Linked DNA regions of Homo sapiens: all the other regions are reported to be linked to region 1. Evidence: microRNA targets listed by miRTarBase, many of them from high-throughput screens and not tested one by one. Region 1 holds a microRNA gene; each other region holds the end of a gene's coding sequence.
Evidence for each region. The annotated mature microRNA hsa-miR-1-3p reads UGGAAUGUAAAGAAGUAUGUAU and lies in region 1 at 3,046-3,067, shown strand. An mRNA with a match to its seed (bases 2 to 7 or 8) in the 3' UTR can be bound and repressed. Matches are read on the target gene's strand: a 7mer-m8 pairs with bases 2 to 8, a 7mer-A1 pairs with bases 2 to 7 and ends in A, and an 8mer does both.

Region 2: the mRNA of TH is a reported target of hsa-miR-1-3p. The part of its 3' UTR that is shown has no 7-base or 8-base seed match.
Region 3: miRTarBase lists PLEKHB2 as a target of hsa-miR-1-3p. Seed matches in the 3' UTR shown: 7mer-A1 at 4,328-4,334 and 7mer-A1 at 3,022-3,028.
Region 4: the mRNA of IPO9 is a reported target of hsa-miR-1-3p. Seed matches in the 3' UTR shown: 7mer-A1 at 3,851-3,857 and 7mer-A1 at 1,839-1,845.

What each region holds. Positions count from the first base shown.
Region 1 is chr20:62,551,306-62,559,570 of GRCh38, forward strand. MIR1-1 (microRNA 1-1) reads left to right here and starts at 3,001; the gene lies at 3,001-3,071. It overlaps MIR1-1HG (MIR1-1 host gene), which reads left to right. Exons shown (of 4, transcript NR_171007.1): 2 at 2,160-2,360. CRMA (cardiomyocyte maturation associated lncRNA) reads right to left here and starts at 256. Exons shown (of 7, transcript NR_033263.1): 1 at 121-256. RefSeq lists enhancers at 1-110, 5,415-6,286, 7,157-8,028.
Region 2 is chr11:2,161,456-2,164,955 of GRCh38, reverse strand. TH (tyrosine hydroxylase) reads left to right here. Exons shown (of 13, transcript NM_000360.4): 13 at 564-1,027. The coding sequence ends at 723. Among named protein-coding and RNA genes, the nearest start is that of INS-IGF2, 2.0 kb to the right of the region's middle.
Region 3 is chr2:131,143,061-131,151,325 of GRCh38, reverse strand. PLEKHB2 (pleckstrin homology domain containing B2) reads right to left here. Exons shown (of 8, transcript NM_001100623.2): 8 at 1,481-4,689. The coding sequence ends at 4,553. Among named protein-coding and RNA genes, the nearest start is that of PLEKHB2, 42 kb to the right of the region's middle.
Region 4 is chr1:201,873,059-201,881,323 of GRCh38, reverse strand. IPO9 (importin 9) reads right to left here. Exons shown (of 24, transcript NM_018085.5): 21 at 6,952-7,074; 22 at 6,388-6,492; 23 at 6,096-6,172; 24 at 1-5,380. The coding sequence ends at 5,270. Among named protein-coding and RNA genes, the nearest start is that of SHISA4, 12 kb to the left of the region's middle.

The sequences.
Region 1 (8,265 bases):
AAGCAGCGGCCCCCCACGCGGGCAGTGGATGGCATGGGGGCTTCGGGGCTGGGCTGGGGGCGCGATTCACCTGCCGCTCCGCAACAAAGCCCCGGCAGCCGGGCGTGGGGCTAAACTTACCTTGAACTTGCAGTATCCCCCACTGAGGTGCTGGTGGGGGGCAGGGATTCCCGAGCTGAGCGGCGGCGAGGCTGCCCCCGGCCGGGACTCGGCACTTCTGCAGCTCTCCCAGCCACGTCAGGGTCAGGAGGCGTTTACAGGGGCAGGGCGGCGAGGTGGGGGGCGGGGGGCACATGTGGGCGGAGACTAGGGGGGCTTCGGGGAGAGCAGCCCTGGTGGTCGGCGTCTGTGCAGGTCCCTGCTGGGGAGCTTGACTTCCCGCGTGGCCTCCCGCGGCGCTGATGCCGGGGGCCGGGCGGTATTCACCGCTGAAGAGCCCCGGAGGAGGCCCCGGGCACAGGAGCCAGCTCGGCTCACGGTGGGGTCTGCTTGGAGGCGGCTGGGTGCTCTTTTTCTATGCAGACGGGAAACTTTTTGAAAAGTGACTACAATTCATTTGTGAGTGGGCAGAAGTCCTGTGGACTCTGGCTGGGTCTGGGGTGACTCTCCTGCCCTTTGGGACTCCCAGCTTTCCCCTTGACCCCCAGACCCCGTCCAGATGAATGCCTCACAGGTCGTGGGGGCTTGAGCCAGGCTGCGGGAGTGTCCCAGGCTCTGAGAGCTCATGTGCCAGGGAGCTGGGGACGTTGAGGAGGCCTTTTCCCTGGACTCCGGGGACGGTTATTGCGGAGGTCTTGGGAGGGCACAGATGAGCGGCGGAACCCAGGTGCCCCCGAAGTTGAAGCTCAGGCTGCGGTGTCGGGTGCCCTTTTTGTATCCTTGGCTACGTGAAAATGATAAATCACAGCAGCTACGTGGAAATGGGACATCAGCTTCTGCTTCTGTCTGCCATTTGCTCCTTCCTTTGTAGAGGGGATGCCTCCAGAGCCTTAAGCACAACCCCCACCCCCCGCCCCCACCCACCCCCACGTGAAACTCCAACCCAGCCATGCCCAGCTGCAGACCCACTGCCACACAGCCACAGCATGCTCAGTGGCCTCTGCACACTGCAGGCTCTGCGGAGACATTGCCCTGCCCTGGGTGGTAAGAGAGAACCAACTCGCTCCGGGCTGTCCCCTCGCATGGACGGGCTGCCTGGAGGAGCAACAGAGTCATGTTGGACCTCTCTTCCTGATGAGGACAACGGGAGGTCCTTTCATGTCCCGGGGCTGCTGTCCCACCCCACGCCAGGGTCAGTGGCAGGACAGGGGCCAGGGCCCAGCTGGACCCCACCGCTTAGCAAGCCTCCTGTGTCTGTGCCCGGCCTGCACCCCCAACTGGCGCCTCCCTGGCCCCCGTCCCCCCCAGGCACCTGCAAAGCCTTCTTTCCACCTCTCACCACCGCACGTGCCAGGCTCGCCCTGGGCCACTGCGAGGCCTCGAAACCCTGCAGGCCTCCTCCTCCTCCTCCTCCTCCTCTCCCCGCTCCCAGCAGGTTCGGGGCGGCTTCCCTTCCTGCTGGTGAGGGCCTAACCTTGAGGTCCCATTGGTCTCCTTCTGGCTCTTTCTCCACATTTTTCAGAGTCTGGCTTCACGGCTGGTCATAGAAGTTGGCAGGGAAGGAGGCAGCCTCTGCTTCCCACTCAGAGACATTTTTAAACGCAATGAAAAACATATCGATACAATTAAGTATTCCAAAGTGCTTAGTTTGCCACTCGCTAAGTTTACTTAAACCCTCTTTAACAGGCTCATTAGGAGCTGGTGAGCACCGGGAAATTCATTAACAGGAAGGCGGCCCCCTGCATTTGACTGTAAATTGGTATTGATCAGGGGCTGGTGGAGGCTGGGCGGCTGGCCACAAAGAGCCAGGTGTGGGACCAGCCTCCCGGGGGTGCCACGGCAGTGGCGCTGGGCAGGTGACGGTGGCTGCTGACCCCCGGTGCCCATGTAAGCTGCTGGCTCTGCGCAGCTGCCGCTTCAGGTGGGCCGCACTGCGCGGCGGTTCAGGGTGGTGACGCTGCGAGGCGGGGACGGGGGAGAGGGTGAAGAAGAGCGAGAGAAGGAGGGAGAGAACCGGGGGAGCGACGCTCCCTCGCCCACTGGGTGTCTGCTGTGGCCAGGCTGAGGCACCTAGGGAGTTGCCCCCCTAGTGGACGGCCTCTCAGGAGATCCTGACCACCCTCTGGGAACCTGGACTCCTCCAAGCATCGTCTTTCTCGCCTGCATCTTCGGAGAGAGGTGCTGAGCCCTTCCTCATGGATACGGGGTCCCGGGAGGCAGCCTTCACCAGGGACCTGCCCAGGAAACCAGCAGATGCCCAGGTAAGCCCCCAGGACACCTCTCGGGTCTCTGGTCTGCAGTTCCTCGTCTGGCCTCAGGAGCAAGGAGTTGTCCAGCTCCCGGAGAAGGAGGAGGCTGGTCCTGCGAGTGGGGTGCTGGGCAGGGCGCCCCCCAAGGTTCCTCTCTCCACCCAGCCCTCTCTGGGCTTGGCTGGGATGAGGTGACCCAGGGGGACAGGAAAGTGTTGGCTTTGAAAGTTTGGGACATGGATGATGCCTCCCTGCTCTGGGGTGAGGGTGGAGGGGCAGCCTGTCTCTTCCATGGACGCAAAACCGAGCTACTGCTGGGGCCAGGGACAGGCGCTCGAGACTTTCTGGGGCTCACTGTCCACTTCTGCCTTTCTGGATCGTGTGAGTGTGTGAGACAGACAGAGAGAGATGGATTCAGGGATGGAGGGGCGCCGAGGTCAGAAGGGGGCAGGGAGTCCTGGGCCCCTGGGGGTGGCTGGACACCAGGCAGCAGTGGCAGGAAGGCTGTCCTGCTCACACAGAGAGGGCTCCGGCAGTAGACTCCAGGGAAGAAGTTACACTGCCTCTGAGCTGCCTTCTCTACATCGCAGTGGGGTCAGCTTCTACCGGGGCGGCGTCCCGGGGTCTTGGAACTGCATGCAGACTGCCTGCTTGGGAAACATACTTCTTTATATGCCCATATGGACCTGCTAAGCTATGGAATGTAAAGAAGTATGTATCTCAGGCCGGGACCTCTCTCGCCGCACTGAGGGGCACTCCACACCACGGGGGCCGCCGCGGCCGACAGCCAGCCAGGCGGCTGTGGTGGGGGTGAGGCTGGGGCGGCAGGCTGCCTGGGCGTTGGTGGACGGTCGTGTCCCCGCCAGCATTGTTCTGTCACTTTGCCTGTGTCAGCAGGTGGAAGTGCTCACCAGACATTAAATATTCAGCTTGCTGACTGCGGCAGAGGGGAGGCGGCCTCCGGCAGGCGCGGGGTCCAGCGCGGGGCTGGTGAGGGCTGGGGGGTCGGGGCCGTGGCTGGAAAGCACGGAGTGGTGGCGGCGGCTCTGGGGGCTCCACTGATGGCCATCCTGGAAGAGGCCATCAGCCGGCAGAAAGGGCCACGTGTGGCCAGGGCAGAAACTGCTCAGAGGCACAAGACAAGAGCGAGTTTGGAAAAGGGCAGGTGGCTGGATGCAGAAAGGAGGGAGAGGCTGGGCAGCACATGGTAGAGTCTGCGGAGGGAAGGCACCTCCTGCACCTGCATCCAGCCCTCCCGGCTGTAGGGCAAGGCAGAGGAACTCGGAGGCATGTAGCCTCCAAGGAAGGCGCAGCCCACACGAGATGCTGGGGACGCGGGCAGGGTCAGGGCCACCACTGCCCTTAGGCCCCACTCCTCTGCCGAGGGCACCTGGGACAGGGTCAGAGGAGCTGAGTCTGTGCAGCCCTGAACCCACAGCCCACCCCAGGGGCCTGGGAGCCGTTCGATTTTGCCAAATGTCTGGTTCATGCCGCCCCAACCTGTACCCCCACCAAAGCCCCGGTTCAGCTTTCTCTCTGTTCCGCCGAATCCAACCTGAGGCATGTTTTGCTGTGAATGCAGGTGAGGCTTTGGCAGAAAGCAGCGTGTGGCCCAGGGCCCCTTGCCCCACCTGTCGGGGGCCTGAGAGCCATCTGCTCTGCCGCCATCCCAGTCCTGACCCGAGAAAGGACTGGGAGGATGTCCTGGGGCCCAGGGGATGAGGGCAGGTCCGGATCCGTCCGTGAAACCCTTTTCCCCAGTGCTGGTCCTTCAAGGAGAGGATGGGCGGCGGGTTCTGGGGTCTTAGGCAGCGGCTGGGCTGCTGTGTGAGGGGCGTTTGCCCGGCTCGTTTCTGAGTCTCAGATTGGAGGCGTTTGCCACCTGGGATGAGGCCAGGTCCCTGCCTGGGCACCCCCACCCTGCCACAGGCCTCAGGATTAATTTCTGGGGTGTGTGTCCTCTCTGCCTTGGCACTGCTCCAGCCACAGCGGTGCCCCTGTGCCCTACCTCCCGCACCCTGGCCTTCGGCAGGAATGAGGCGGGAAGGGACAGGCAGGCAGCCCCCTCCTGCAGCGGCTGGAGGCCTTGGGTCTGGGGGCAGCCAGGTCACCTGAGCAGCTGGGGCCAGCATAGGGAGCGCTGGATAAAGGGATTGGGGGCCGTTCTGAGCTTTCAGGTGGCTCCCACCCCTCAGGGAGCCTCGAGGTGACTGGAGGGGAGGGCCTGGCAGTCAGGGCTCCTGGCCTTCAGGTCTTCCTTCTGGAAACTTCGTTCTCCCAGCCTCAGCCCCATCTGGCGTAGCAGCAAGGGGGCGGGTGTTGACCTCGGGCACAGCCTCCTCTCGGCCTCTGGACCCGGAGGGTCAGTGCCCAGCATCCGCTGACGTCATCTCTTCCCTGCCTGCTCCCAGCTCCGGCCACAGGGAGGGAAGTAGCCGGGCGTGTGGCCACCGAGGCTGCCGGTGGCCACAGACACACCGTTCTTTTCCCCTAGATGCGGCTGTTGTACATTAAAGCTTTATTGCAGGATGTGGTGTTTAAATAAAAGCATTAGTGTTTTGGAATTAGGTTTGACTGAGCAGTAAAACTGGAGAGTTCACAGGGAGAGAGCTGCGGCCTGCTTGGCGGTAAATCACCTCCAGTCTCTGATCTGCTGAATTAAAAATGAGCATTGCACGGACACCGCCCATGGCAGCCCGAGCCCCTCTCCCCTGCACGTGTGGCCTGATGGTGCTCCCTGGGGATCCTGCTGCTTTCCTGGAGACACTGGGACCCGGGGCTGGAGTCTCCCATGCGTGAATCTCTAAAGCTTGGCTCCCGGGCAGCAGCCAGGACGGGAACCCCAAACTGGCGTGGGGCATGGACACGCTGGGACTTTCCCCTGTGGGGGTCTTTGTGCCTGTCCGTTTGAAGGAGGGGAGAGCAGGCAGGGCGGGGGCACAGACCCTCACTGGCTATGTCTTGCCCGCAGGGACTCTCCTGAGACGGCTTAGGCACGCTACCATGGGGGCCGGGACTCTCAGAGGGAAATGAGCCTGGACTGGGCTGAGGGGGCTGGACATGGGACACCCACCCCCTCGCCTGCCAGCTCGGGAACCCAGGTGGGTTTGTGTGGCCATGAGGAGGTGGCCAGTGCCGGTGTCTCTCACTCCCTAGAGCAGGTAGCACCAGGTGTAGGCTTCTGGGTTTCCCAGAACACTCTGGAAACTGCCCCACGGTGATCAGAGGCTGGGCCAGGCTCCCGCTCGTGGAAACAGCCGCTGCAGAAATTGTGGAGCTCATAAATTCAGCGGACCAAATTAGTTACCTTTTTCTATCCTATGGCTCACAAAAGCTAGCTATGCTCCAGGCACTGTTTCCACCCGTGAGTGAGACCGGCTCTGGGTCCTGGAGCTTGCACGCAGGAGAAGGACGGTCTTTGGGAAGGGACGGCCCCGCTGCTGTGCCTGCACGCGTGTGTCACGATGAGTGGTCTTGCATTTCTGCAGCCAGGGGGCCGAGGACATAGTGGCACCCCCTTCTAAAGAGGGGGCCTTTGGTGATTCTGGCTTAGTAGTGCATTCAAGTGCAATACAGTGTTTTATTGCACAAGCATTCAAAGCAGGCGCAGCGGCTGGTGAGAGCATTCGCGAGAGGTGCGTCGGCAGTCTCTGTGAAACTGTCGGGCTCACATGGGGAACGTTGCGTCGAAGAATAAACTGCTATCAAGCATGATTAGATTGACCCACAGGACAGATATTTTAGATGCCGCAGCCGGAGTCAATCAAAATGAACATCACTCGAATTGCAAATTTTACCCAAAAAATGCTCTAAAGTAAAAATGAGAGAACCTGAGTGGCCCGAGCCATCTTCAGGGCCAGGGCGTGGCTGGGCAGTGCTGGCCTGAAGGGTTTCTGGGCAGGGATGGCCAGAGGTGGGCGGGGCGGTGCAATGCCGTGAGTCGCTGCCACCTTCGCATGAAGGGTAACCCAGCAACCTGAGGGATTTTGTGCTGACTCAGCCCCGCCGTGCACGTCCGACTGCAGAGGCCTCCCGTGCTCTCTGCAGCCCTGCTCCTGCCTTTGATGCCCCCGGGCAGGATGCTGACCTCGGGGTGGCTGGGCTTGGGCCCCAGCAAGGGAGGCTCTTGGACAGGAGCACAGGGCTTTGTGAGGGGCCCTGGCCTTGCCCACTGTCCTTGGCCAACCAGCAGCCTCTGTCCCTGTGAACTGGAGGCATCGCACCCAGGAAGAGCTGGGCATGGCTTTTGGGAAGGGAAGGCACCCGCAGACAGTATCAGCAGCTCCCAGAGCCTCGTGCTGTCTGCTCCTTCCTGAGGTCCCAGGCCCAGCTGGCCAGAGCTTGGGGCTGGGAGGGCCCTCCCCGGAGGCCCCTGGGTGCCCAGGGAGGACTCTGCCTTTGGGGAGGACTCTGCCTTTAGTGCTCAGAGTCCCCAGCCGGCTCTGACCCCTGGAAGCCCGTCCTGCTGAGTGGGGAGGGGCGGTGACTGCAGCAGAGGAGTGGGGCAGGCTGCTGCCGAGCTGCCGCCTGGGATGCTGCAGAACACCGCAGGAAGCATGCAGGGCTGCGCGTCTCAAGGGCAGGGATCAGAGGGCCACCTCTGGCAGCTCCACCGCTGGCTCCCTTAGATAGAGGGACACAGGGCCGAGGTTCCCACACAGCGGTCACTGCAAAGGCACTGTGAGCTCGACTGATTCACCCAGGTTTCAGAGGCACCACTAAGCCTCAGGCCAGGTCTGCTCCCTGCACCAGGCGGGCTGCCCCATTGGGGTGCAAGTGTGTGATGCTGAAGGACAGAGATGCTGGGGGGGACACTGGGCCTCTCAGGCCTCCTGTGTCTACCCCAGGGAGAGAACATGGGAGAAAGAGCCCTGTTTCAGGAGTGCTGGGTGCAGAGGTCACTGGCTGCTCCCTGGCCAGGAGGTGGTCACCCAGAAGCCTTGGCGGTGGGAGACTGGGGTCCACTCCTCACAGGGTCGAGCGACTCCTTGGCTGGGACTGGAGGCAGGTGTGTGTGTGTGTGTGTGTTTGCATGGGCATGCACGGAGGACGATTTCTGGGATGACTGGGACAATGACCCAGAATATTTTTAACAGCGGCAGGAGAGGGGGTAGAAGGCAGCTGTCCCTGGAACCTGTCCCCGGGGGGCCCCGTGGGGATGTTTTGAGGTTGAAGGACGCCCAGGACAGTTGCACCGTGTGGCGCTTGTTGTCCTGGCAAGCCGATGCCCTCTGTCATGCCCAGATATGGCTCCAGGGCTGCATGTGTCTCCCCAGCTGCCCGCCCGCCCACCACGCCAGTATAAATAGTCCGCGTTCTCAGCTGTCCCATGGAGAGGCTGAACTCGGATGACTCTGCCGGAGCTCTAGGAGTGCCCCCGACCCCGCCCACTGCCTAAGTGCCTGAGGCCAGCAGCTGTAGCGGGACAGAGGCCGGGTGAGGCTCTGGGCTCTTGGGCTCTGCCTCTGTCTCTCCCTCCTCACCTGCCCCCTTGGAGGGTGTCAAGTCCAGGAGGGACCCAGCTACCTTCTGTCGTCCCTTCCCCAGGGCATGGCGGGGACTTTGCCCACTGAGAGTGAAGAGGGACAAGAATCCCCACCCTGGGAGTGGGTGCAGGGAGCTGCTTGGTTCCCTGGCCTCGGGCTCAGGCCTGCAGCAGGCGAGACTGTCGCTGGGGTCCCTGCTGCCCCTCCCTCGGGTACCTCCTCACCTGTCCCGGCCCTCCTCCCACATCAGCTGTAGCAACACACTCCAGAGGCCTTGCAGGCCCGAGCACCAGCTTGCCAGGCCCCTTCCCAGGGGAACTGGCTTTCCCTCCACCCTTAACTCAAGAAGTGACTCTCTAATGGTAGAATTTCAAACACCTCCAAGGCCTGTGGAGCTGATGCCCTTGAGTGTGGGCAGGAAAGGCCCATCC
Region 2 (3,500 bases), not on the chromosome of region 1:
CCTGTGGAACCTGTCCCGGCCCCCTGCCCTGGGATGGGGAGAAGTCAGGGGGATAGACAGAGTCAAGGTGGGGGACAGGGCGGGAGTGGGGTCCCCAGGGCTGGGGGCCTTTGGTGCAGTGACCAGAGTGTCAGGAGAGGGGAGCAAAGCCCTCTAGCCTCATCCTCATAAAAGGTCTCATCATTTTCCCTCCAGCCTCTTATGCACTGGGGAAACTGAGGCCAGGGGCTATGTGTCCAGCGGACAGGGGTGCTGAATTCCACCCACAGGCTTAGGGATATGGTCAAGGAAAGCTTCCTGGAGGAGGCCCAGTGGAGGTTCAGGGAGGGATGGGGTGCCCGGCAGTCTCTAGTGGAAAAGGCGCCTAGCCTATCTCCCCCATGAACCCCCTCACCCAGCCCTGGAAGAGGCCTCAGTGTCCCGCCTGTGACCAGTTGGCTCAGAAAAGCCCTGGGAGCTCTGAGCCACTGTGAAGGTGGAAACGCGGCCCCTGGCCTCCCCTCTCCTGGAGGCTGCAGACTCTGCCCGCCAGTTGACGAGGGCTCTGCCGCTCTCCTCCCCAGGAGCTATGCCTCACGCATCCAGCGCCCCTTCTCCGTGAAGTTCGACCCGTACACGCTGGCCATCGACGTGCTGGACAGCCCCCAGGCCGTGCGGCGCTCCCTGGAGGGTGTCCAGGATGAGCTGGACACCCTTGCCCATGCGCTGAGTGCCATTGGCTAGGTGCACGGCGTCCCTGAGGGCCCTTCCCAACCTCCCCTGGTCCTGCACTGTCCCGGAGCTCAGGCCCTGGTGAGGGGCTGGGTCCCGGGTGCCCCCCATGCCCTCCCTGCTGCCAGGCTCCCACTGCCCCTGCACCTGCTTCTCAGCGCAACAGCTGTGTGTGCCCGTGGTGAGGTTGTGCTGCCTGTGGTGAGGTCCTGTCCTGGCTCCCAGGGTCCTGGGGGCTGCTGCACTGCCCTCCGCCCTTCCCTGACACTGTCTGCTGCCCCAATCACCGTCACAATAAAAGAAACTGTGGTCTCTACACCTGCCTGGCCCCACATCTGTGCCACAGAGACAGACCCTGGGATCCTCAGACTCCCACACCCCCACCCCAGCCTCACTCAGAGGTTTCGCCCTGGCCTCCTTCCTCCTCTGGGAGATGGCTGGCCGCCCTGGCCAGGCAGCTGGCCCCTCCGGGCCTGGTTTCCCCGCTCACCCTGAGGCCCCGCCCAGCTCTGAGCCCCAAGCAGCTCCAGAGGCTCGGGCACCCTGGCCGAGCTGCCCCATCTCCGTGGGGTGCCCTCCCAAGGTGGGGAGCCACGTGACAGTGGGAGGGCCTCTCTCAGGCCTGGCAGGGAGCAGGGGTCACAAACTGTGCTGGCTGGGGGTGGTCTCAGAGGTGGGCCTGCAGGCCTAACCCTCCCTGCTGACAGGGCTCCCAGCCCTTGAGAGAAACAGGGATGGAGGAACAGCTGCCCTGATGCCCTCACCCACCCGGAGCAGGCCCTGCGAACCAAGGGGAACCTCAGTGTGGCCCCCAGCATGTGTGCTGATGGGGAGGGTCTGGCTGAGCTGGTGCCCAGGCAGATGGTCTGGGCCTGTCTCCCCAGCGAGGCAGGATGGGGGCTGGATTTCAGACTCTGTAAGATGCCCCTGGCTTACTCGAGGGGCCTGGACATTGCCCTCCAGAGAGAGCACCCAACACCCTCCAGGCTTGACCGGCCAGGGTGTCCCCTTCCTACCTTGGAGAGAGCAGCCCCAGGGCATCCTGCAGGGGGTGCTGGGACACCAGCTGGCCTTCAAGGTCTCTGCCTCCCTCCAGCCACCCCACTACACGCTGCTGGGATCCTGGATCTCAGCTCCCCGGCCGACAACACTGGCAAACTCCTACTCATCCACGAAGGCCCTCCTGGGCATGGTGGTCCTTCCCAGCCTGGCAGTCTGTTCCTCACACACCTTGTTAGTGCCCAGCCCCTGAGGTTGCAGCTGGGGGTGTCTCTGAAGGGCTGTGAGCCCCCAGGAAGCCCTGGGGAAGTGCCTGCCTTGCCTCCCCCCGGCCCTGCCAGCGCCTGGCTCTGCCCTCCTACCTGGGCTCCCCCCATCCAGCCTCCCTCCCTACACACTCCTCTCAAGGAGGCACCCATGTCCTCTCCAGCTGCCGGGCCTCAGAGCACTGTGGCGTCCTGGGGCAGCCACCGCATGTCCTGCTGTGGCATGGCTCAGGGTGGAAAGGGCGGAAGGGAGGGGTCCTGCAGATAGCTGGTGCCCACTACCAAACCCGCTCGGGGCAGGAGAGCCAAAGGCTGGGTGTGTGCAGAGCGGCCCCGAGAGGTTCCGAGGCTGAGGCCAGGGTGGGACATAGGGATGCGAGGGGCCGGGGCACAGGATACTCCAACCTGCCTGCCCCCATGGTCTCATCCTCCTGCTTCTGGGACCTCCTGATCCTGCCCCTGGTGCTAAGAGGCAGGTAGGGGCTGCAGGCAGCAGGGCTCGGAGCCCATGCCCCCTCACCATGGGTCAGGCTGGACCTCCAGGTGCCTGTTCTGGGGAGCTGGGAGGGCCGGAGGGGTGTACCCCAGGGGCTCAGCCCAGATGACACTATGGGGGTGATGGTGTCATGGGACCTGGCCAGGAGAGGGGAGATGGGCTCCCAGAAGAGGAGTGGGGGCTGAGAGGGTGCCTGGGGGGCCAGGACGGAGCTGGGCCAGTGCACAGCTTCCCACACCTGCCCACCCCCAGAGTCCTGCCGCCACCCCCAGATCACACGGAAGATGAGGTCCGAGTGGCCTGCTGAGGACTTGCTGCTTGTCCCCAGGTCCCCAGGTCATGCCCTCCTTCTGCCACCCTGGGGAGCTGAGGGCCTCAGCTGGGGCTGCTGTCCTAAGGCAGGGTGGGAACTAGGCAGCCAGCAGGGAGGGGACCCCTCCCTCACTCCCACTCTCCCACCCCCACCACCTTGGCCCATCCATGGCGGCATCTTGGGCCATCCGGGACTGGGGACAGGGGTCCTGGGGACAGGGGTGTGGGGACAGGGGTCCTGGGGACAGGGGTCTGGGGACAGGGGTCCTGGGGACAGGGGTGTGGGGACAGGGGTGTGGGGACAGGGGTGTGGGGACAGGGGTCCTGGGGACAGGGGTCTGGGGACAGGGGTCTGAGGACAGGGGTGTGGGGACAGGGGTGTGGGGACAGGGGTGTGGGGACAGGGGTGTGGGGACAGGGGTCTGGGGACAGGGGTCCGGGGGACAGGGGTGTGGGGACAGGGGTGTGGGGACAGGGGTGTGGGGACAGGGGTCTGGGGACAGGGGTGTGGGGACAGGGGTCCTGGGGACAGGGGTGTGGGGATAGGGGTGTGGGGACAGGGGTGTGGGGACAGGGGTGTGGGGACAGGGGTCTGGGGACAGCAGCGCAAAGAGCCCCGCCCTGCAGCCTCCAGCTCTCCTGGTCTAATGTGGAAAGTGGCCCAGGTGAGGGCTTTGCTCTCCTGGAGACATTTGCCCCCAGCTGTGAGCAGGGAC
Region 3 (8,265 bases), not on the chromosome of region 1:
TCCGGTGGGCAAGATGGCATGGGCAGGCTCTCAGCACCAGGCAGGAACTTATAGGCCGCTCACAGGGAAGGGGGAGCAGGACAACCAGGGGCAATAACGCAGTCATCCTCAGCATGACTGTAATGTAATAAAGGACAAATGGATGGAGGAACTATATTCCTTGCTGGAAAGGGTGAATATCTTCTCTAGGCCCATCCACAACAGTTGGTAAGTGGGGAAAGAAACGATTTAACAGCAACGAAAATATCAGTGACCAAATGACATTTGTGTTGTGTGAACTAACAATTTGCTTGTAATTTGCAACCACTGGCTTTATTAATCAGTAAAAACTGTACAAAGTAAATACAAACCCAACTTCCACCGAGAATTGGCGATACTTGATGATCATGATCTGTCATTAACTACGGCCTGTTATCAGCAGCTGAGGCGAGGGCCATTTCTTCCTGGGTTCAGACGATACTTCCCAGACCTCAAGCACTGAGCCCAGGCCACATGATTAGCCCTCACCACTGGAAGGGGAGCGCCACTCCAGAGCTGAGGATGGGTGTGTCTTCACTGTCTTTTCTTCCAGCAGGTTGTATAAGTTCCCACAGCAGATTCCAAGGCAAAGAGATAAAAGCAGTTTTGGTCCCTGAATGACAGCCTGGAGCAGAAGCCTCTCATCCCTTATGAACCCACAATGGACTGCGACTTGAACAAGAAATAGAGCTTTTCGGTCGAGCGTGGTGGCTCACTCCTGTAATCCCAATACTTTGGGAGGCCAAGGCGGGCGGATCATGAGGTCGGGAGATTGAGACCAGCCTGGCTAACATGGTGAAACCCCATCTCTACTAAAAATACAAAAAATTAGCCAGGTGTGGTGGCGGGCACCTGTAATCCCAGCTACTTGGGAGGCTGAGGCAGAAGAATGGCGTGAACCCAGGAGGCAGAGCTTGCAATGAGCCGAGATGACGCCACTGCACTCCAGCATGGGCAACAGAGTGAGACTCCGTCTCTAAATAAATAAATAAATAAATAAATAAATAAATAAAACAAAAAAGTCATATATCCAAAGATGCTGGAGAAGTTATTGGACACACACTGCCAGAGGGATCTGGTTGGGAAAAATAGTGTCCGTTTTCTCACAGCCATCCCAAGAGTGTGACTGCACGGGCCACTGCTGTTTGTGGAAATCAAATTCTCATATGCACACGGCACAGGGAACAACAAGGCGTTTTAACATCAGATGTGGAGACCTACTACCTGCACGCTCCTGAGTAAATTATTTAACTTCTGAGCCTCGGTCCCTCCAGTGGAACTTGGATAATACCTCCCTTACAGAGTCACTAAGAATTCAGTGAGTTGTCTCTAATGTGACAATATACTAGCATTTGGTAGGTCCTCAATAAATGGCATTCTTATGATCCAGGACAGCAGAAAAAGCTGAGAGTATGTTACTACAAAGTAATTTTTTAAAGACAACAGAAGTCACAATGAAACATGCTTTAAGGTTAATGCTTTAATGTATTGACATTTTCACTTACAAATGTACAATTTGCGTATGTAGGAAAAAATCAGTTCTCTAGACACAACAGAATACTACTAGAGACGGGAAAGCAATCACAAAAAGATCAACTCTGGGGAGAAAGTGGAACTGCATTCCATGCCTTGTATCTACATACACTAGGGAAGGAAAAAGAAATATTACACAGGATCAAAACTTGTGGAAAATACACTTGGGTCATTTTGTCTCAACTGCAGGACCTTCTTATGATCCAGATGGCTACCTTAAGTCCTGGATAGCCTAAAATGGGCAAAGTCTGGCCTTGTTCACAAATGATGATCCAAAACATTAACCACAGTTCTCCTTCTCTTTAGTATCCAAGACCCTGAAGTTGACTCAAGGAATGAAAAGAACAATCAGATCAGCATGTATATAATATCATTGGCCAACTTCTTCAAGGTATGGATTATTTAAAAGTACACATGGAAGTAAAATGCTTACTCAAACCTGAATAAGAAGTTTCTTGTAACTCAAGCACTTCTTGACTCACACTAAGTGTAGCACTGTAAACAAAAGACATCGTTGAGAAACTGAGGCTATCAAAACATTGGCATCTATGGGAGTTGTGGCCAAGGAAATAAAATACCTGAGCAACCTTATACCCAGTATGCATTTCATACCAGGATCAAGTCACTAATGACAGCCAAGTTCCAGGCTTATCTATGGCTGCCTAATGAGACTGGCCCCACTAGGATGGGGACTGGGGAGGGGACACACATGAGTGCCCAAGCTTCAGTCTACACCTCCCCCCTTCAGCCAGAAGCAGCCAGGGGAGCACAGGGACATCTGCTTCAAGAGCATTTTGGCAGCAAAAATCAATACTCTGTGGTTCCTGGAATTCCCACCCAGTAATTCCAAGTTCAAAATTACCACCAGTGCAACATGAAAAACTGTTAATAGTTTTTAAGTAAAGTGTACATACAGCTTTAATAACGATTATAATCTGAAGAAAGCCATTCTTCTTATACAGGATGGAAAATCCTCAAAGCAACATTTTAAACCATGGACACTAGAGTTGTCATACATCTATTCAGAGATGAGAGATAAACAGACATCCTTCCATGTGGAAACAGACACTCCCATGTCAACAAGTCCCCTAGGATCAGAGAGAAAAGCAGACCCGTGGTCATCACTAGGTGTCTCTGGTGTCTCGCTAAAGATGGAGTCCTATGTAGGTTGGCCTAAGTTGGCCTCAGAGGGAGGTGGCTGAGCAGCAAAGCAAGACAGCATGTGTGTAACCAGCCAGGCAAAATAACAAGTCTGTGCTACCTGGAGTGTATTTTCAGGAAAACAGGACCATATGGAGTGTGGGGCAGGGACATTCGCTGTGCTAAACTGCCACTGTAAAAGCACACTGTTGAAAGCATGCAGGACAGAAAACTGCAATAATTCAGAGCTTGAAAACAAGAAATAACAGAAATATGAATATTTCAAATACACACTTCATATACTGAAAATAAGAGCATTTGAAGAAAGGCTGGAATGGGTTTTCCAAAGACTCACACATTTTGGGGTTCCAAATTCAATGTTCTAAGCTTCTCTATCACAAAGAGATCAAGAACAAAAGCAAAGCTGGGGGTCCTGGCCAGGCTGAGTGGTACCTTGAGCCGGTCCCTGTGTCCTGAGGGTCCCTGGGCCCCATATCCCATCCATAACCCAAGTCTGCTCAGCTACAGTCTGCCCTGGTGCTCAGTGAACAGCCACAGAGTCCCACTTCTGCACAGGATGGGCCTTCAGAGTGATGAGAGAGCATCTCCCGCACAGTGCAAACCCCCAAAGGCCAGAAATGGGAACGCTCTAACTAAGGCTCTCCTTCCACTCCCTCACTGTTCCTTTAATATTACTCTCTCAGCAAGTAGAAAAATAGGCTATAAGGAGGCTTAGGCAGACACACACTCAAACAGCCTCTTGGAATAAAGCAAATCTGCCTCCACATACTTGTTTGTATATTGTTCTGGCTTCTCCAGGATTTTTTTTTTTTTTTTGAGACAGAGTCTCACTCTGTCACCCAGGCTGAAGTGCAGTGGCACTATCTTGGCTCACTGCAAGCTCCGCCTCCTGGGTTCACACTATTCTCCTGCCTCAGCCTCCCGAGTAGCTGGGACCACAGGCGCCTGCCACCACGCCCAGCTAATTTTTTGTATTTTTAGTAGAGATGGGGTTTCACCGTGTTAGCCAGGATGGTCTCGATCTCCTGACCTCGTGATCCGCCCGCCTCGGTCTCTCAAAGTGCTGGGATTACAGGCGTGAGCCACCGCGCCCAGCCAGCTTCTCCAAGTTTTAAAGGATTAAAGCCCTCAAACTCTCAGGCTTAAATCAATTCCTAATGTGGGATATGTTCTCCAAGTATGCCTACCAAAGCCATACAAGAATAAAGTGAGCAGCAGCAGCAGCTAGGGTCAGGCAGATTTCTGAAGCATGATTGTTCAAAGGCGGGCTGTGCCCCATCATCCTGAGCCATCGGCCTTGCCAGGGGCCTGTGGAGCCCCAGAGGGCAGGACGGGGGCTCTCACACCATAGCCTCGGGAAGTACCTGGGAGCTTACCAACCCACAACTCCTAAAGTAACATGCAACCAGTTCTGGTCTGTGGTTTGAAAAAGTTAAACGCAAAGAAGCTGTAGCTTTTCTTGCCACAATCACTCAATAGGCATACAACACTATATTACTGGCATAACATGAAAATAAATTAACCCTTAAGCACTACACCTAACTCTAAAAAGAAAATGCCTTTCAAAACAGGTATGCTCAAATAAGGTATTCTGAGAGTTGCACAAGAACAGTCTTGGAATGAGCCAGTGCCCCCGGAGAGTCAACATTTGAACAAAATAGCACAGTTCAAACCCTTCTCTGTGGTACTTATGTGGATTAGTACAATTATGACATCACTACTTTCAAAGGAATGATTAAAACTATTATTAAAAACTTTTGTCACAAACAGAAATGCCCTGCAAATCATATTATTGCACACAGGGTTATCAGAAGCTATGCACATCAAGACCTTGAGGCCCCTAGAAGACCCAAAATAGAGACCCTAAGGCCATGCCCGTGGCTGCTCCTGCCAGCATGCCCAGTGCCAGGTCGCTGTCGTTGTCTCGATAGCGCTCTCGAATGATGACTTGGTTAGCAGGCTGCTGTCCATAAAGTCCTAAAAGAGAAGGAAAATAGCAGATTTCTGAGCAGCGGTTTGTGAAGTTTAACATCACGCAAAGTACCAGTTCTCCTTTCACAAAAGGGATCTGCTGTCTCCTGTCACACTGGCGACCCAGCCCTCCTCCACAACAGGCACATCATGTGGCCGACATCCCTGAAACCGCACACTGGGAGGAAACCAAGATCCTCAGCTCACTAAGGGCCAAAGTCCCTAATCTGCAAAAAGCAGAACCCTAATGAAGCTTTCAGATTCTAGCCTCTGATTTCTACTTCAGCCCTCGACACCATGCTTATTGGGTGGCAGACAAATGGGGAACATGGGAGACACACAGTGCCCAACAAAAGCCCAAAAAGGAAATGCTCACTTAAAGCAAATGAGCTTCTTAGTATGCACGCAAACCAATTTTTAAATTAAGCCTTAAATCTGCACATATAACTTTTTTTTTTTTTTGAGAAGGAGTCTTGCTCTGTCCCCAGGCTGGAGTGCAGTGGCATGATCTCAGCTCACTGCAACTTCCACCGCCCAGGTTCAAGCTATTCTCCCACCTCAGTTTCCTGAGTAACTGGGACTATAGGCGCCCACCACCACGCCTGGCTAATTTTTTGTATTTTTAGTAGAGACGGGGTTTCACCGTGTTAGCCAGGATGGTCTCGATCTCCTGACCTCGTAATCCACCCGCGTCGGCCTCCCAAAGTGCTGAGATTACAGGCATGAGCCACCACGCCCGGCCCGGCCTACTCTTTTTTACTGCATGTCTTTATAGAGAAAAAATAAATATTTATGTTAGAGGTGAAAACTTCAAAAAAACAAACCACAGACAAATTTAGTATTTAATTTGCAAGATTAAAATTTACAACTGGAAATATACTGTTTGCTCTCTTCCATGCTTCACAGCTATAATGCCTAGTAGCTAAGTAGCTTTCAAACTGCTCAGGTATTAATAGCGTTAACTTTCCTCCTTGATCCTCTATTCCTTTAATGGTTCAAAGGCTGGCTGGCCAGGCTTGATGGCTCACACCTGTAATGCCAGCACTTTGGGAGGCTGAGGCAGGTGGATCACTTGAGGCCGGAAGTTTTAGACCAGCCTGGCCAACACAGTGAAACCCTGTCTCTTAAAAAATTACCAAAAAAAAATTAGCCAGGGGTAGTGGCGCATGCCTGTAATCCCATACTGAGGCATGAAAATTGCTTGAACCTGGGAGGCGGGGGCTGCAGTGAGTTGAGATCCTGTCACTGCAATCCAGTCTGGGCAACAGAGTGCAACTCTGTCTCAAACACACAAAAAAAGAAAAGAAAAAAAACTAGTCACTAGTGATGTGCACATGTGGATGAAGAGCAGAAGTGAAACCCGCAGTGGTAACAAAGGTGAACATTTCCAGCCACTTACAGCACTACATACATTGGAATGCTCTTACTCAACTGAGTGCACTTTTATCCCTATTTTGCAGATGGGCAAACTGAGGCACACAGCAGTTAAGGACAGTAAGGGCACACAAACCCAGGCACTCTGGCTACAGTATGCATTTATACCCACTAATGCCTCAAATACAACAGAGGATGATGAATGACAAAACTCAAAAGGCACAGAGTAGTACAATGAAACCATCGTAAATCTAAGGGCTGATCTGGTACAGGTAACAGTACTGGAAGCAAGTGATTATTTTTGCAATGTTTAAATTTCAAAACTAGGGAATTACGGCATTTACTTTCACAGCCCTGACATTTTAAAATGCTCAGTAATGTTAACTCCAACTAGCCAAATGTAACACAATAGAACTTGTGAGCTGACCTAATGAAAAGGTCCCATGGAAAATCTACATTCTGATGCCCCTGCAAGTCATGCTGAGGTCCCCTGGCTGCAGGACCAGGCCACTCTCTTGTGGCTCCTGCTGAGCTCTGCTCCTGCATTGAGCTCAGTCCTTGCCAGAGTCAGCTGTGGATGCTTCCAGGTCACACTTATTATAATTGCCTAATTTAACTAATATTACATAAATGGTCAAAATGTGAATGAGAAAAAGGCAGACACAGTTTCTATGGCAACTAAGATACTACAGGAAAAACTAAATAAAGGAAGGTTACTTTTACAAATTACCATCAAATCAGGGAATTAAGAAAACTATAAAAGATGGGAGGATGGGAGGACTATAGTCCCCAAATCTAGAAGTCTGCTCTTGGACTTACCCCTGGAAACTGCAGTGCAATGACGTGTCATGAGGATGGTCTCTACAAGACAGAAATAGAAGACTCCAACCAAAGGAGCCAACTCAAAGCAAACACCTCAACCCCACATTATAGGAGAGCCGAACGAACACCCACTAGCGGGTTAAATCACAGCACAATGTTTACAATACGTCTACAGTACTCTGTACTTTCTCAATTGGCTGACCAACCACTGGTCCCAATCACACTGAAGAGAGAGCCTTAACCAGCTCTGTGCATGACTAGGAGGGTTCTTGTGGACTAGCTCTAGGCAGTGAGACCCTGGCAGACAGGATGGCATGGAGGTGGCAAAGCACCCATCTGGTTGTCAACACAAGCTGCTGTGTATCGACCACAAACCCATTTGACCCTTCCACAGCAAGCAAGTCTGGGGGCTGCCTGGTCACCACTCTGAGGCAGGCTGGCCATAATGCCTACTGACTCAGCCCCTTATGTGGGCGGCAAGCATTCCGAGTACTGCCTGTGAGAGTGCTACTTCTACTCTACTGACGAGAGCCAAGGGCAAGGATGGACTCATTTCCAGAAGTGCCCTAAACAACCACGTCTGCAATATCTGTGCTCTCTATACAGTAAGAAACAGCGGCAACAGCCCTATTCTGTGGGCTGGAAGCTGAGAAAGAGGCTGGCTCTCATGTGGCAAGGCTAGGGCTTAAAACTCTCCATCCCATGGGATCCCAACAGAAAAATGTGCAAAGGAAAATTATTCATAAAAGGTGATATAAACTAAAGCAACTCGATGATTCCACTTGAGACCTACTGAAGCTATCAAAACTTTTAGAGCACAACAGGCCATCTTTATGGGATCACAGATAAACCACTGCATCAGTAACTGCTAGTGGCATTATAAGTTGGTAAACCATTCTGGGATCAACTTGGCAAAATGCTATCCAGATTTAATGTAATATTAACAGATGAAATGATTAAAAATCTGGGATGTCCCTTAAACTAATCCAGAGGTAGAGAAAGGAGGCTGAGGTAGAGATAAAAGATTAGACATGATATGGTTAACTGCTGAAGCCAGTGATGGACATATGATAGTTCATTATACCATCATCCCTATTTTTTATGTTTGAAAACGTTTACATTTTTAAATCATATCCCAAAAAACCGTCAAAAATGTCTATGCCTTCTGACATGTTAACAGAGATGCTCCTCAACTTACAATGGGGTTACCTCCCAATAAACCCATCATAAGTTGAAAACATCATAGTCAAAATGCATTTAATACGCCTAACCTACCGAACATCATAGCTTAGCATAGCCTACCTTCAACTGCTCAGAGCACTAACATTAGTCTGCAGCTGGGAAAATCAACTAACACAAAGCCTATTATAATCAAGTGTTGAAGAT
Region 4 (8,265 bases), not on the chromosome of region 1:
CATCAATCTGTAAAACTGGGTGAGCAAAGTGGACTACTTTGTAAGGTTAGTAGGTGGTCTGAGGTAAAAGTATTTAGCATACCCACTGGCGTTTAAATACTCCAGAAGCAGGTATTGTTAGCTCCTTGCAAGTGTTCAAGGGTTGCCTTCTCCATGCAACTTACCCGACTTCCTCCCCCAGGTTACCATTAGCCAGTTCCTTTTTTGGGCAGTGGGAACTAAACCCAGTACACTTATTTCTCTCACAGCACTCCCCACATTTATTATACTACAGATGCTTTTCAGCTTATAATGGGGCTACATCCCAATAAACCCAACAAAAGTTGAAAATACCGTTAAGTGAAAAATGCATTTAATACACCTAGGCTACCTTAAACCTACTCAGATCACTTACATTAGCTTACAGTTGGGCAAACTCATCTAACACAAAGCCTATTTTATAATAAAGTGTTGAATGTCTCATGTAATTTATTGAATACTGTACTGATTGTATGGATACTTGAAGTACTGTTTCTACCGAATGTGTATAGCTTTTGCACAATCCTAAAGTTGAAAAACTGGAAGTCAAACCATCATTATGTTCAGGCCCATCTGTATTTCTGACCCCCTACTAGACTAGCTCCTTGAGGGAAAGGGCCAAAGCCCTCCAGCATTTAGCACCGGCCTTGCATATCTAATAGAGGTTCATAGTTCACTGAAATGGGGTTGGGGGCAAGAGTAGCCAGAAATTGGCCTTTTATTTCCTACTTACTGATCATGGGTCAGCTTAGCTGGGGTGCAAAAGTATAGTATGTATTTCACTGGACCATCCTTGAACTTCCCAAAGCCATGTCCTGTTTCCTCTTGTCTTCTCTAAGCTAAGCATTCTTAGCTCCTTCAAGCTTCTTTTCCTTGACACGATTTGTCCTCTACATCTTAGCCTTCCTCTGGCAGAGGACTCATCTGTCAGGGAGCCTCCGGTTGAGCACCAGAAGGGAACATGGCAATGAGGATCACTGATAGGCACAGGAAGACTGAAAGGACCTTCCACACTACCCTAGACAACCTGTTTTTATTATCTCATCCTAGAACCACACTGGAGTTTTTTTGGACACATTAACAGTTCCTGGCATAATAAACTTTTTTTTTATTTTAAATTTTAAGAGACAAGGTATTGCCACATTGCCCAGACTGGTCTCAAACTCTTGGGCTTAAGTGATCTGCCCTCCTCAGCCTCCTAAAGTGCTGGGATTACATGGGTGTGGCACCACACCTGGCCCTCCTGGCATAATAAACTTTATTTTTTGAGACAGAATCTTGCTCTGTTGCCCAGGCTGGAGTGCAATGGTGTGATCTCGACTCACTGCAACCTCTGTCTCCCAGGTTCAAGTGATTCTCCCGCCTCAGCCTCCCGAGTAGCTGGGATTACAGGCACGTGCCACCATGCCCAGCTAATTTTTTTATTTTTAGTAGAGGCGGGGTTTCACCACATTGGCCAGGCTGGTCTCGAACTCCTGATCTCAGCTGATTTACCCACCTAGGCCTCCCAAAGTGTTGGGATTACAGGTGTGAGCCACCACACCCAGCCATTAAACTCTTAGTAGCACACAATACTGTTAGTGACAGCACAGTACTCTATAGTCCTCAACTCTGCACAGATGTTATTATCAATCTGCATTTATTGAAATGTTACATTTAGATTCTGCTCATTTTTATAGTTTGTAATGGTATTTGTTTGGATCCTAAATTTGGATTCTAAATTGTCATCCTTCCTAAGGGTTTCTTATTATCTAAAAATTTGATCAGCACTCCTAATTTACTAGTACTATCTCTTGTGTAAATGGCTTCAAATTCTTTTGTGGAATGGGTAAGGCATAAAAAAAGTCATCTGTCACTAATATCAAAGGAGGGGCCAAGGACACAGCCCTGGGGGAACTTACCAGGTCAACCCACAATGGGTGAATTTATAGTTTGTTAGTTAGTGGTCAGTTACCAACTTCTCTGTCTGTCTAATGCTTTGACTAAAATGTCCAGATTATTTACCTAGTTAACAAAATTAAAGAAGATTCTAAGACCAGTTTAGCATCATTTTCTCTGAAGTCCATAATGAATGTCTGTTAAACTCTCGTCACTCTTATTTAGGTGCTTTTGGGTCATTTGTTGTAGGTTCATTCTCCCAAATCAATGTCACATATACGTCTGTAACTTGTGTTATCAGCTTCCTTCCTAGGGCTTTAACTTCTTTTCAGTCTTATAGCATTCCTTCCATTTTCCTTTCAGTTCACTCCAATAAAAGCTCGACAAACTCCTGGGAGCCCCTTGGTGCCCCAGCTGCTGTTTACCAGTCAGGAGACTAAAATGTCTCAGAGCAGCTAAGTGCTCTTTTTTATTTTTACCTCATTTGTCTTACCTTGAACTTTTTAGTTCCTTGTAACCACTTAGCCCTGCCCTTTTCAGACTGAAGCTAGTTCTCTTTGGCCAAAGACAGGAGACAAAATATGGTCTAGAGTTTCTGTCAACATGTACTGGCCTCCAACAGATCTTTTTTCTTCCTGCTGACACTGGACACAGTCTCTCCACTCTTTTTCTCATCAACAGAATGGGAATATCCACTCTGTGAACCTGTTATAAAGGTTAAATGGGATAATGTATATGAAAATGCACTGGAAACACAATTAAGTACCTGCACATCGAGGGGTCCAAGACCTTCTGCTCTCACCCACAGCCGAGTATCTGTTAGCCAGGGGTAGCCCTTAAGTGTTACTAGGGCCCTTTCCTCAGGACTCAAGTTCTCCTGAGGCAGGATGCCCAGTCCTCCCCCAAATCAGCATGAGAGCAGAAAGGACCCTTGCCAAAGGATTTAGGACCACTTTTGGCACTAGATATAGAATGTTTGTCTAATTAGCAGACGCAGAGGGACCCCCATCATTCTCAGTCTGTGTGTGGGAGCCTTAAGCCTTCCCAAGCTCAGCAGTTCAATGCTACTGGCATGAGACCATTCTTTTGTGCCAATATCAGAGGCTGACTTGGCCTTATGCCTTTAGCACCAAATCCGACTGGCACTGCCTTGAGATAAACTATGGAGTCTGCAAGGCCGAGGGTGGTTTTCTCAGCACCACTTGGTCAGATCTGCCATCATTTCCCCAGTATCAGCAACTCCCACAATGCCATGTGAAGCAGCAGGGGCACAAGCAGTTAGCCTCAGAACCTGGCTGGCATGGGACGACTGTGAACATGCCCGCAGGCTTCTCAAAGGTAGTAAAAACTTTTAACTCTACTTCTTCCAATCTCAGTCATGGAGGTTGAACACTGGGGACACCTAGTGGCATGAAGAAATTACCAGCTACAATATCCTTGGGGCCATCCCCTTGAGTGGAGATTCAGATTCACTTTATATTCTTTCTCTTTTTTTTTTTTGAGACAGAGTTTCGCTCCTCTTGTTGCCCAGGCTGTAGTGCAATGGTGCGATCTTGGCTTACTGCAACCTCTGCCTCCCAGGTTCAAGCGATTCTCCTGTCTCAGCCTCCCGAGTAGCTGGGATTACAAGTGCATGCCACCATGCCTGGCTAATTTTTGTATTTTTAGTAGAGACAGGGTTTCATCATGTTGGTCAGGCTGGTCTCGAACTCCTGACCTCTGGTGATCCGCTGGCTTCGGCCTCCGTAAGTGCTGGGATTACAGGTGTGACACACCACGCCCAGCCTATATTCTATTTCTTCTTTGTGAGAATATCAATCTAAAGAAATATCCTGTGGTTATTAAAAATGGGGCACCAGATGTGGGCACTACCAAAAAAAGGGGAACACAGGTTTCATCTTTCTCCCCATGATTTGTGTGTGTGTGTGTGTGTGTGTGTGATTGAGTCTTGCCTTGGAATGCAACGGTGTGATATCGGTTCACTGCAACCTCTGCTTCCCAAGTTCAAGCGATTCTCCTGCCTCAGCATCTCAAGTTAACTGGGATTACAGGCATGCACCACCATGCCCAGCTAATTTTTGTATTTTTAGTAGAAATGCAGGTTTCACTGTGTTGGCCAGGCTAGCCTCAAACTCCTGATCTCAAGTGATCCGCCCATCTCAGCCTCCCAAAGTGCTAGGATTACAGGCGTTAGCCACCGCGCCCAGCCTCTCTCCATGATTTTCTAATCCTCATTTACTCTTTGAACCCCAAACAGACTAAACTTCCCAATTAAGGAATCTCCCTTAAAAATATTTGATTAAACAATGCCAGTTCTTTAAGAATCATTTCAGGCTATGTTTGCCAAGACACACTAGAATGTTTAGACAGGCTCCACCTAATCCTTTCCCCCATTACTTTTACTTACCTTCTAAAGGGAATAGAAGGCAAACAGGTGCTGAGACACCTTATACCATGCAACTAAATTCATTTGTAAAGATTACTTTACTGTCCTAGAAAAATACATGTTGCAAATTTGAGGGCTACAACTTAAGCACTTTAGAGGCTTCCTGAGGGAAAGGGGATAACCTTTGAATATCAGACTCTGTGGTAATGTGTGGGAGAGGCATATTAAATATAGTTGGGTCAGGTGGATTTAAAAAAAATCCCTTTTCCCCATTTTTTTTTTTTTTTCTAAAAAAGGAAGATCAAATTGCCATCTGTCTGGCTTATTTTGTGTGTGCATGTATATATAGGAACAGCTTGAGGGGAAGGGTTATGTCATGCAATGAAGCAAAAACAAGACGACCTCCTCTGACAGAGGAGCCTTAGTGTTGTAGAAGAGAAGCAAGGCTGAGGTCACTGGAAAGGCTTAGAATGAAGCTGCTCTTGCCTGTTCCTCCTGAGAACCCAGAGCAGCAGTGGTCCAGGGCACAAAGCATAATGATCTCTCATGAGGATTCCTATCTGAACACATCAGAAGTCCTATGAACATAGATAGGTCTGTTTTAGAATATAAATGGTAGTGACTTCCTGCGCTCCTGAGGCGGGGCAAAATAATCCATAAACACATAATCCTTCTGGGCAATAATGTTTCTGGACTCGCCAGCAGAGGGCTCTAGGAACAGAGGTGGGGGTAGAGTCGGGGAGAAAAAAGGTTCTAGAGATGGCATGTCTTCAGGGGAACTTTGAGAAATGTCCTTTGTTCCAGCATTCCTAAGTGACGGCACCGGTGAGCCTGGTCTGAATTGTCATCAGTGTCACTGCCGAGGCCAAGGGCCAAGGGTCAAGATGCCACTTTAGGTTGAGAAGAAAGTGCATCTCAAGGCCAGTGAGGGCTGCAAAATGGTTTGCGGCTGGCCCAGAAGGAGCAAATGTAGAAAGGCTCCCCTTTTTAGATGCCGATGGTCTGTAGAACTCGCCTCTCATTGTCATTAAGGTGGCCTGAAAACATTATGTAGCAGGGCTGCTGAGCAAACTGGCAGAGGAAATCTGTGAGATATGCCTGGAGGAAAGAGCAAGAGTGGCATTAGTGAGACATTGCAAGTCACCCATTTGCAGTGGAGCAAGAACCACAATCAAATGGCACAGGGAATGCTGGTTTTTAGACAAATGCCAGCTCCCTGAGGGATGGTCTTTCATGTTCTTGGATCTAGTTTAGGTAATCCACAGGGAAACAACATTTTTCCAAGGCTGTATCACCCCAAGGACCTTCACAACATAGCCTCTAGAAGATGAATTACAACACATCAAGTGCAAAGTTCCAGCCCACCCAAAACCCTGGACCACTCAACAAGACAGGAACTCTTTCCCATGAGGCTCCCATGTTAAATTATAAATGGATTTTTTTTTTTTTTTGAACACAGGGTCTTGCTTTGTCGCCCAGGCTCGAGTGCAGTGGTATGATCACAGCTCACTGCAGCCTTGACCTCTTGGCCTCAAGCGATCCTCCCACCTCAGCCTCCCGAGTAGCTGGGACCACGGGGGTGTGCCACTATGCCCAGATAATTTTTAAATTATTTGTAGAGACAGGGTGTCCCTGCATTGCTCAGACTGGTCTTGAACTCCTGGGCTTAAGCAATCCTCCCGCCTTGACCTCCCAAAGTGTTGGGATTACAGGCATGAGCCACCATGCCTGGCTATAAATGGATTTGAGCCCATATTCCTGTTTCCATGGCCTGGGACATTGTCATTTGCAAGATATCTCTGGACACCCTCACCTGCAGATCAATCTGATAGAGAGGATCCTTCAGGGCATCAGGGTCATCTTCCTCATCATCCTCGTAGTAATCCTCCTCTGTTAGACATAGCCAACACAGGGCGGGTCAGGACAAAGGCCCATGATCAGGCCCTGAGTGGTGATATACTACCACATGACTGAGGCGGAAGGTGCAAAAGCCCAAGAAATGTCCCTGTGGGCCCACCTCTCCCCTTTCTTGGGTACCCCACTGTTGGGATCAGTGTGCAAAGAAAAGGTATTTACCATGGCTGTCCTCTTATCAAACAGCTTACCATATTTACTTGTAGCAAGAATGTCAGATAAAAGTTGGCCAGCTAAACCATCCTCCTCCTCCTCCTCTTCCTCCTCCTGGTCCTCCCACATATCATTGGAGTCATCTACTTGGAGATGAAAAGCAGCTAGAGCTAGAGCACATTCATGCATTTTCCCTCCCCAAATCCAAATAGGCCAGAATAGAAGGGCCCCAAAGGCTTCTGCAATGTGGCTTGTAGTCCCCAGTGAAAGAGAATCAGAAATGGCCAAACCCTCCTGGTTAGTCTCAATGAAAGAACCTGGAGATATAAGTGTTGACAGGCTCTTAAGAAGAATCAAACCAAAGAAGGGCTATGTTAGCTTGCCTCCTGGCTGCCTCCCACCCCAGCCTCTGTGAGATTTCATATGGCAGACTGGAGAAGCAGCTCTACATGCCTAGTGCCTAGCATGGTGCCAGCCACAGAGCAGCCATTCCATCAACTTTTTTTTTCAATTAGTGACTCAACAAACCAAGTTGATAATTTGACAATTTGTAACTTGATCTGCCAGGCTAAAAGTCTCCTGGGAGTAAGGGCCTGGTGCACCTTGACTCCACTCTGCAGGAGTGGCCTGGCGAGCGGCATTAGCCTCCATGACGTTGGAGAGCTCGTTGATGATCAGCTTTAGGATCTTGACCAGCAAAGGAATGTTTGTCCAGCGTTCTGGGTCTGGGAAGGAAGAAAAAGGTTTCAAGTCAGAGTGTCACTGAGCTTACTTCTGGAAGTACCCCTGTCCTCTCCTCAGTGCCACTCACCAGAGTTCACCACCCCTCAGACTTTCACTGTACCTGACTATATCCAGTCTCCAAAGAGTGACTTAAAGTTAAATAACTTTATTGTTTGGTATTGTAACAGTTCAGAAGCTGGGAGAGATGAGAGTTCAGGGATTAAAGGAGATACAGTCTTGTTAGTAATAAAGCTCTGAAACCAAGGAACTGTATAGAGCCAGTACTCCAGTCCCAATGACTTAGAATTTGAGAGACAGCGGAGGTAATTATAAATCTACATTAAAGATAGCAGCTCTATACTCCCTACCTGCAAATCATTGGAGTTACAGGCCAAAGGCAACTCAGTAACAAAGACATGCTGACTATCTGTGCCCACGCTTCTGAATGAAGCTGGAAGCTGGGATGCTTGGTGCCTGAGACTATTTTTGTCTTTTTTTTTTCTTCAGACAGAGTTTTGCTCTTATTGCCCAGGCTGGAGTGCAATGGCGTGATCTTGGCTCACTGCAACCTCCACCTCCCGGGTTCAAGCGATTCTCCTGCCTCAGCCTCCCGAGTAGCTGGGATTACAGGCATGCGCCACCATGCCTGGCTAACTTTGTATTTTTGGTAGAGACGGGGTTTCTCTATGTTGGTCAGGCTGGTCTCGAACTCCCGGCCTCAGGCGATCCACCCACCTCGGCCTCCCAAAGTGCTGGGATTACAGGTGTGAGCCACCACGCCTGCATTTTTTTTTTTTTTTTTTTTTTGAGACGGAGTCTCATTTTGTTGTCCAGGCTGGAATGCAGTGGCACGATCTTTGCTCACCGCAACCTCTGCCTCCCAGGTTCAAGCGATTCTCCTGCCTCAGCCTCCCAAGTAGCTGGGATTACAGGCGCCCACCACCATGCCTGGCTAATTTTTGTATTTTTAGTAAAGACGGGATTTCACCATGTTGGTCAGGCTAGTCTCAAACTCCTGACTTCAAGTGATCCATCCGCTCTGGCCTCCCACCAAGTGCTGGGATTACAGGCGTGAGCCACCATGCCCGGCCTATTTTTGTCCATTTTCCACAACAGGAAGAAACCGTATGTTCTGATCCCTTTTACCTAAGTTTCCTGCTTCTTCTTTATCAAACCCATCACCAACAATTGTT